Regions from separate parts of the Homo sapiens genome. Here regions 2 and 3 are each linked to region 1. The links come from fine-mapping of genetic effects on gene expression. A gene starts in region 1. Each other region holds a variant in brackets. All regions are shown on one strand. Distances are from middle to middle.

Region 1 (2,762 bases):
AAGAGCTGTTCTAAGAGTAAAACCCTTAAAACAGTTGGGCACACAGCAAGAGCTCTCATTAACGTCAGCTCCTATTATGATCGGTGACGTCGTTATCTTTCAAGAAGAGGCTTCCGATGTGCAATTAACCTGTTTATCATTCAGCAACTTGAATCAGAGAATGCTGAAGTCACTGGGCAGCAAGACTCACAGGAACTCATAAATCAATCCAAATGGAAAAAGATTATATCAGCATCTTCTTATATTCATGTTTTCTAAAGCATTTTATAGTCCTAGTTTTAAGTATACTGGAATTATGTTCAGTCTGCACACGCTGTGAAGCAAAATTGCTGTCACGTTATAATAAAAAGCAGGCTTTGCTTACTGTAGTGCAACATGATGTGAAGGAAAGCTGGTGGACCTGGAATAAGGGATGGGAGTGCAAGTCTGACTGTACAGTTTACTGACTGTTACCTCGGAGAAAACTCTTAATTTATCTGCATCTGTTTTCTTATTTCTAAAGCAGGGTAAATAATACCTACCTCACAGGGTAGTTGGGAAAATTACAAGGAATCCATGAATGCGCTGGTTGTGGGGGAGGGAGGCTGTTCTGAGCTCTCTAAAAATGTATACAAAATGTACATTCGATAAAAATGCACGGTTTTTTGGAGGAGGTCTATCACTTTCGTGATATTCACAAAGGGCTATATAACTCCCAAAGTTTAAGAACCACAGAGGTGAGGTAAGTGGAAGTACGGCAGACCCATAAAAGGAGGTCAGAACAAGTGAGTTTCAACACTTTTCCTAGAAGATCAATTTACAGAGCAACCTCTAGGGCCCCAATAATGAAAGGAGTGGACTTGAGGGAGGCTCGGGAGGCGCTGGGCCACGAGGAGGCACAATGCAGCTTTGAGGAAACCCGTCTGTCCCTCGTTCCGCACCCTCACAACTGCCGCAGCCCAGGGGCCCGAGAAGGAAATCGCTGAGGCCTGGCCGCCGCCGCTTTTCTCGAAGGGCTTCCCGCGCCGCTGTCGGAGAGTGGCGGGGACAGTGGGGTCGGCGGCGTAGGCCGCGACCCCCGGCGAGGCAGAAAGGAGCGCTCCTCCACCGGGTCCGGGACGCAGGCGGGAAGTGATCAAGGCTCCCTGAGTCCCACCCGAGCGCTCCCGGTTCAGCGCAGGAGGACGCACGCCGGGCCAGGGTACGAGAAGGCCCCGTGGGTTCCACAGGGAACACAGCCCGGGCGCCGGCCTCCCCGCCTCACGCGGCCCCGTGGGGGTCCCGGGGAGCCGCGAGCCTCCCCCTGGGCTCCCGGGAGGGCCGCCACGTCACGGAGGGTGTGCCCCGGGGCTCCGCAGGCGGGCGGGGGAGGAGCCGGGGGGCTGGCTCCCCGGCCGCGCCGAGCTCCTCGCCCCGGGCCCGCTGCCTTCCCCACGCCGGGCCCCGCCGCGCCGTGCCGCGCCGCGTAGCCCCTCACCTGCCTCTCCGGCTCCGGCGCTCACCGTAGGCCTCGGAACTTGCTCATTACAGGCCGCGGGCAGCCCACGACGGTTGGAGCGCCTGTCTCTTTAAATCCGGGTCCTAGAGCGGGAGGCAGCGCGCAGGCGCAAGAGCCAAGGCCGCGGCCACGCGACCGGTCCCCGCCCCCGTCTGCCACGTGGGTCGTAGTTGCATTCTGCCTGCCCTGTGATGTTTGGGAGTAGTTTTCAACCTGCAATCGCGGCCCGGGAAGCGGAGGTGGGGGGACGTGGCGGCTCCTCGGAACGCAGCCTGGCCTGAACTTCCGAGGCTCCCCTTGATTTTCTCATACTGTTAGAGAGGATCTGTTTTTAAAGATATTGGTGGAGAAACTATATTGTAATGAGGTCGGGGAAGGCAAAGATCGCGTCAATCTATTTTTTAAATATAATCCCTCTGTTTGTGTCCCGCAGACTCCCTAGTAAATAGTTTGTATTCAGTAGCTTTCATGGAATTGAGACGAGGCACTAAACAGCAGATAGATATAAAATGTAAAGGAGTGATGGAGGAGAAACTCCTTGATTGTATATCATTCAAAGTGTATTATCTCAAATCTGAAGCCAGCTCTTTGAGAGTTGGGATGGCGATTTTTACAAATGTAGCAGCCTGAGGGTAAGTGACCTCTTCAGAGTCTAGGAAGAGCAAACAACTGGGCCTTGTTAGGTAAGCAAAGAACAGGTTCCCGAGAGAATTCTGTGCTGTGTGATGAAGAGTGTCGTCTTTACTCTGTAGAGGACGGAGAGCCATGAAGAGTCTTAGGGAATACTGCTGAAGCTGGGTGGGGAGAGACTGAGGCAAGGGAACAAATCAGAAGGCTCTCATAGTGACCCATGTGGGAGATGATTCAGCTAGTTAGGGTGGAGAGTAAAGTGCGTTTTTGAAGATCATTTAGAATTTAAATGATCTTCTAGATAAAGTGCTCGTTTATGGATAAAATAATAATAATTTGAGTGAGCAGAAACATAATGGTACCATCAACTGAAATAGAAAATAGAGAGGAAGAGGAGGTGTTAGGGTTAGAAAGATGAGTTTTGTATTGGATACATTAAGTTTGTTTGACTAAGTTTAACTGCGATTCTACTGTTTGGAGGGGAGTAAAGCCTGCTTTTAATGCGCAGCAGAATGAACCAGGGCTTTGGTTCAACCAGGCAATTGGAAGGTCGCTGGAGACTCACGTCCTAGCTATGATAATTGAGTGATCTTGAGCACGTCTCTACAACTACATTTGCTACATTTTTTTAAGTTTCCTCAACCGTATCTGTCTT
Region 2 (2,762 bases), 120 kb before region 1:
AAGGGAAAGAAAGGAGGGAGTCAGAAAAGGAAAAGAAGGGCCTTACCACCATGGTGGGAGGCTGGACACAGGAGAGAGATGGCTGCTGAGAGATCCATGACCAGAGGCCTCAGGACTCTCTGCGGAGCTTTCTGAAATTTGATGACTTTAATGTAGTTTTTAGTTATTTTATTTTATTTTTTTTGAGACAGAGTCTTGCTCTGTCGCCCAGGCTGGAATGCAGCGGTGTGATCTCAGTTCACTGCAACCCCCGCCTCCCAGTTTCAAGCGATTCTCCTGCCTCAGCCTCCTGAGTAGCTGGGATTACAGGTGTGCACCACCACGCCCAGCTAATTTTTGTATGTTTAGTGGAGACGGGGTTTCACCATGTTGGCCAGGCTGGTCTCGAACTCCTGACCTCAAGTGATCCACCGCCTTGGCCTCCCAAAGTGCTGGGATTACAGGCGTGAGCCACTGCGCCCAGCCACTTTAGTGTAGTTTTGATGTCCTGTGATTTAAACCCTTTCTTTCTACCCAAGTCTTCATTGAAGTCTGTTACACATGCCAATGGGACGAGGGAGACATTGCTGCTGATGACATTCTGTGATGCCCGTGCAGCTTGCTGTATTTGGGATGGGGGGGCTATTTCTTACTAGTTTTAGATAGAAAAGCAAGCTTGTCCTGTAATGTGTCCTAGAGGCTGACAGGTTCATGAGTGCTTCCCCCACATTCCTTCAGGTGACTGGTTCTTCAGGAACTGTGAAGGTGGTGGTTGTGGACTCGGTCACTGCGGTGGTTTCCCCACTTCTGGGAGGTCAGCAGAGGGAAGGTGAGTGATGTGGCAGAGCCTGGGGCCAGTGGAATGTGACCTCGCCTCCCAGCTCTGGAGTCTGGTCTCTGGCCAGCCCCATCCCTGGTTCCCCACTGCCCTCCCTCTCTGCTTCTCCTCCTCCTGCAGGCTTGGCCTTGATGATGCAGCTGGCCCGAGAGCTGAAGACCCTGGCCCGGGACCTTGGCATGGCAGTGGTGGTGAGGAAGCAGGCTTGGCCAATGAACTTGATTTCTAGTTATTGCGAGCTCTTTATTTCCCTTAAATGTCAGCTTCTGAACCCCAAAGTGGCCCTTTAGGAAAGGGACATATCCCAGCTTCCCTGGGTCAGCTACAGCTTTGCACCATAAATAGCTAAGGGAATCAGGAATCGTCTTGTTGTTTTTTTGTTGTTTTGTTTTGTTTCTACATTTTTTCTTTTTAGTCAGGTTTATTGAGGTATAATTTACATAGAGTAACTTTCTCCTTGTTTGAAGTTTGACTAATGGATATAGTTGTATCCAGTCTTGTGACCCCACCAAAAGGTCCCCCAGGCCCAGGCAACCACTGATCTGTTTTCCATCCCAATAGTTTGGCCTTTTCCAGAGCTTCATATAAATGGATCTTTTTGCTATTGAAGTAACTTTTTCTGCTTATGAGGTAGTTTTTTTAAAGTCTGCATGCTTCTCATAGAAAGGATAGAAAATAAATATGATTCAAATTTGTCATCAATCTCCACATCCACAGAAACCATATTAATATTTTTACATATCTCCATACAATACTTTTTCTGCATATTTACTTATACTTTTAGCCAACTTTCTTTCTTTCTTTTTTTTTTCTTTTGAGATAGGGTTTCGCTCTGTTTCCCAGGCTGGAGTGCAGGGGCACAATCACAGCTCACTGCAGCTCGACCTTCCAGGCTCAAGCAATCCACCCGCCTCAGCCTCCCAAAGTGTTGGTATTACAGGTGTGAGCCCACACTTAACCAGCTTTCTAACTAAACTAACCTCATGAAAAAATAAAAAAAA[AT/T]AGGCCAGGTGCGCTGGTTTATGCGTGTAATCCCAGCACTTTGAGAAGCCAAGGCTGGTGGATCACTTGAGCCCAGGAGTTCGAGACTAGCCTGGGCAACATGGCAAAACCCCACCTCTACAAAAAATACAAAAACTAGGTGGCCTTGGTGGCAGGAGAATTGCTTGAGCCTGGGAGATCGAGGCTGCAGTGAGCTGTGATCATGCCACTGCACTCCAGCCTGGGCAACAGAGCAAAACCTCATCTCAAAAACAAACAAACCAAAACAACAACATAAAAAATACCATCTGAGTCCATTTCCTATGTTTTAAAATAGATTTTTTAGAAATGTAATTTTTAGCAGCTATATATTTTTTCCAGTTTCTTTTATTGTGGTAAAATACATGTAACATAAAATTTACTATCTTAACCACTTTAAGGTATACAGTTCGGTGGTGTTAAATACATTCATAACGCTGTACAACCATCACCACCATCCATCTCTATAACTCTTCACCTTGTAAAACTGAAACTCTGTACCCATTAAAAATAACTCATTTTCCCCTTCCCCAGCCCCTGACAACCACCATTCTACTTTCTGTATCTATGCTTTTTGACTACTCTAGGAACCTCATATACATGGAATCATATGGTATTTACTTTTTGTGACTGGAGTATTTCACTTAGCATAATGTCCAGAAGGTTCATCCACCTTGTAGCATGTGTCAGACTTTCCTTCCTTTTAAAGGCTGAGTGTCTGGGCGTGGTGGCCCACACTTGTAATCCCAGCACTTTGGGAGGCTGAGGCTGGCGGACTGCATGAGCTCAAGAGTTTGAGACCAGCCTGGAAAGCATGGTGACATGTGCCCCATCGCCTTCTGGTTCGGGTCAAACCTGAGGCATCGAGATTTAGTGGAAAGAGCGGGGCACAAGTCAGGAGGCCCAGGTTCTAGTTCCAGACCTG
Region 3 (2,762 bases), 49 kb before region 1:
AGCTGAGATCATGCCACTGCACTCCAGCCTGGGCGACAGAAGGAGACTCCATCCCAAAAAAAAGTTAGTGAATTGCCTACAACCTTGTCCTCTTTGCAGGGGACAAGCCCAGAAAGCCAGATGGTAATTGTTGTGAAATCTGTAGGTTTATTAGGTTTATTTTGTACCTTTGCCTTCCCAGAAAAATTGTAGTTAAAAGCATTGTTATAATGTGGATAACAACAACTAATGTTTATATAGTGCTTTATAGCATACAGACTGTCCAGAGGAGAAAAATGAAGTACAGAAAGTCTATTACTTGTTAGAGGGAGGTAACACAGCCCTTAAGTAAGTAGAGCAGGACTTAGGACTGAGGCCTTCTTATTCCAGATTCTATATTCTTTTTATTATTACATACTGTCTCAGATTTGTCTGTCAACGTGTGATTTAAAGAATTACAAAATTTGGCTGGGCATGGTGGCTCACAACTGTAATGCCAGCACTTTGGGAGGCCAAGGCAGGTGGATCACTTGAGGTCAGGAGTTTGAGACCAGCCTGGGCAATATGACAAAACCCAGTCTCTACTAAAAATACAAAAATTGGCTGGGCATGGTGGTTCACGCCTGTAATCCCAGCACTTTGGGAGGCTGAGGTGGGCAGATCATGAGGTCAGGAGATTTGCCCATCCTGGCTAACATGGTGAAACCCCATCTCTACTAAAAATACAAAAAACACACACAAAAAAATGCTCACCATCACTGGCCATCAGAGAAATGCAAATCAAAACCACAATGAGATACCATCTCACACCAGTTAGAATGGCAATCATTAAAAAGTCAGGAAACAACAGGTGCTGGAGAGGATGTGGAGAAATAGGAACACTTTTACACTGTTGGTGGGACTGTAAACTAGTTCAACCATTGTGGAAGTCAGTGTGGCAATTCCTCAGGGATCTAGAACTAGAAATACCATTTGACCCAGCCATCCCATTACTGGGTATATACCCAAAGGACTATAAATCATGCTGCTATAAAGACACATGCACACGTATGTTTATTGCGGCACTATTCACAATAGCAAAGACTTGGAACCAACCCAGATGTCCAACAATGATAGACTGGATTAAGAAAATGTGGCACATATACACCATGGAATACTATGCAGCCATAAAAAATGATGAGTTCATGTCCTTTGTAGGGACATGGATGAAATTGGAAATCATCATTCTCAGTAAACTATTGCAAGGACAAAAAACCAAACACCGCATGTTCTCGCTCATAGGTGGGAATTGAACAATGAGAACACATGGACA[C/T]AGGAAGGGGAACATCATACTCTGGGGACTGTCGTGGCGTTGGGGGAGGGGGGAGGGATAGCATTAGGAGATATACCTAATGCTAAATAACGAGTTAATGGGTGCAGCACACCAGCATGGCACATATATACATATGTAACTAACCTGCACGCTGTGCACATGTACCCTAAAACTTAAAGTATAATAATAAAAAAAAATAAAAAATTAGCCAGGTGTGGTGGGCGCCTGTAGTCCCAGCTACTTGGGAGGCTGAGGCAGGAGAATGGTGTGAACCCGGGAGGCGGAGCTTGCAGTGAGCTGAGATCATGCCACTGCACTCCAGCCTGGGCGACAGGGCAAGACTCCGTCTCAAAAAAAAAAAAAAAAAGAAAGCAAAAATTAGCTGGGCATGATGACAGCTGCCTGTAATCCCAGCTACTCAGGAAGCTGAGGCAGGAGAATCACTTAAACCTGGGAGGCGGCGGTTTCAGTGAGCCGAGATCATGCTACTCCACTCCAGCCTGGGTGACAGAGTGAGACCCCTGTCTCAAAAAAAAAAAAAAAAAAAACTACAAAATATTTCAGAGGGCTATTCCTCCTCTGTTGTCCCCATTTCTCTTGGCAGCAAAGAACTCATTTACTTTATCATACACACACTCTGTGAAGAACTCTTTACTTCATTATTCCATGTGAACTGTTAATTGCAAGTAAAGGCAGATTACTTGCAATTCTTATTCTAGGAACTTAAGTTCCTGGGAACTAAGTTCCTCTCCTGGGAACTTAGAACCCTCAGACAGGTTATATTGAGTCAGAGAGAAATGTTTCTGATGTGCTGAAGATTGAACAAATGTGTGATTAGTTAAGACTTAGATATTGTATATGATTAATTCATTTGCTAGTTCTTGTTGAGCTACCTGTCTAATTGGGCACTGTTAGACTATCACAATCCCTGTTGTCGTGGGGGTTACAGGCAAGTTACAGGCCAGTTGGGGAGACAGGTGTTAATCAGAGACCCCTGCAAGGGAGCGAATTATATCACAGGTGCAGTGGAGGCAGTGTTGGAAAGCTAAAAAGGACCTAGAGAAGTGAAGAGGCCTGAGGTTATGAGCTATTTGACCTAGGAAGTTACTTCCCCTTGCTGGTTCTCATTCTTTTTTCCTCGATGAAATAACCCAGGTTGAATCAGTTGGCTTCTTAGTTCCTTCTAGCTTATGAAAGTGCCCTTGTTAAAACAATGAGTCAGGAGACAGCAGAGCATTCTATTGTGTGAACTGATTATCAAATAATAACACTAAATGTTTCATTTATTGTCTCTGTAAGCAAAGAGTTCAGGCTCAAAGTATCTACATGGGCTGCTTTAGTCTACTGAGAAAAACATACTCATATCTCACATCAATGCTTGGCATTTGAGTGGGCCCTCTTACAATTGTTAGGTTATTCTGACATTTGAGGGATTGGATCCAGATCCTCTTTGTTTTGTGATCGTAAAAAT

Alleles and levels. Alleles are on the strand shown, and positions count from the first base shown. SD is a standard deviation of normalised expression in the study named.
As copies of AT replace T in region 2, the expression in monocytes after LPS of the gene that starts at base 1,567 in region 1 goes down (moderate effect, 0.53 SD a copy in Fairfax 2014).
As copies of C replace T in region 3, the expression in subcutaneous fat of the gene that starts at base 1,567 in region 1 goes up (small effect, 0.40 SD a copy in GTEx).

The links. PIP is the estimated chance that this variant, and not a neighbour inherited with it, causes the effect.
Region 2: its variant is the best candidate, but not a certain one, in a credible set for the expression of LIG3 in monocytes after LPS (Fairfax 2014, PIP 0.62).
Region 3: its variant is the best candidate, but not a certain one, in a credible set for the expression of LIG3 in subcutaneous fat (GTEx, PIP 0.56).

The regions. Positions count from the first base shown.
Region 1 is chr17:34,979,317-34,982,078 of GRCh38, reverse strand. It overlaps LIG3 (DNA ligase 3), which reads right to left and starts at 1,567. Exons shown (of 20, transcript NM_013975.4): 1 at 1,457-1,567. RefSeq lists a silencer at 1,113-1,542.
Region 2 is chr17:35,101,500-35,104,261 of GRCh38, reverse strand. It overlaps RAD51D (RAD51 paralog D), which reads left to right. Exons shown (of 10, transcript NM_002878.4): 7 at 718-808; 8 at 938-1,008. It overlaps RAD51L3-RFFL (RAD51L3-RFFL readthrough), which reads left to right. Exons shown (of 7, transcript NR_037714.1): 3 at 718-808; 4 at 938-1,008. Among named protein-coding and RNA genes, the nearest start is that of RAD51D, 17 kb to the left of the region's middle. The variant AT/T (reference allele first, on the strand shown) is at 1,819.
Region 3 is chr17:35,028,418-35,031,179 of GRCh38, reverse strand. The region is part of intron 1 of RFFL (ring finger and FYVE like domain containing E3 ubiquitin protein ligase); the gene reads left to right. The region is part of intron 5 of RAD51L3-RFFL (RAD51L3-RFFL readthrough); the gene reads left to right. Among named protein-coding and RNA genes, the nearest start is that of RFFL, 34 kb to the left of the region's middle. RefSeq lists an enhancer at 2,521-2,570. The variant C/T (reference allele first, on the strand shown) is at 1,292.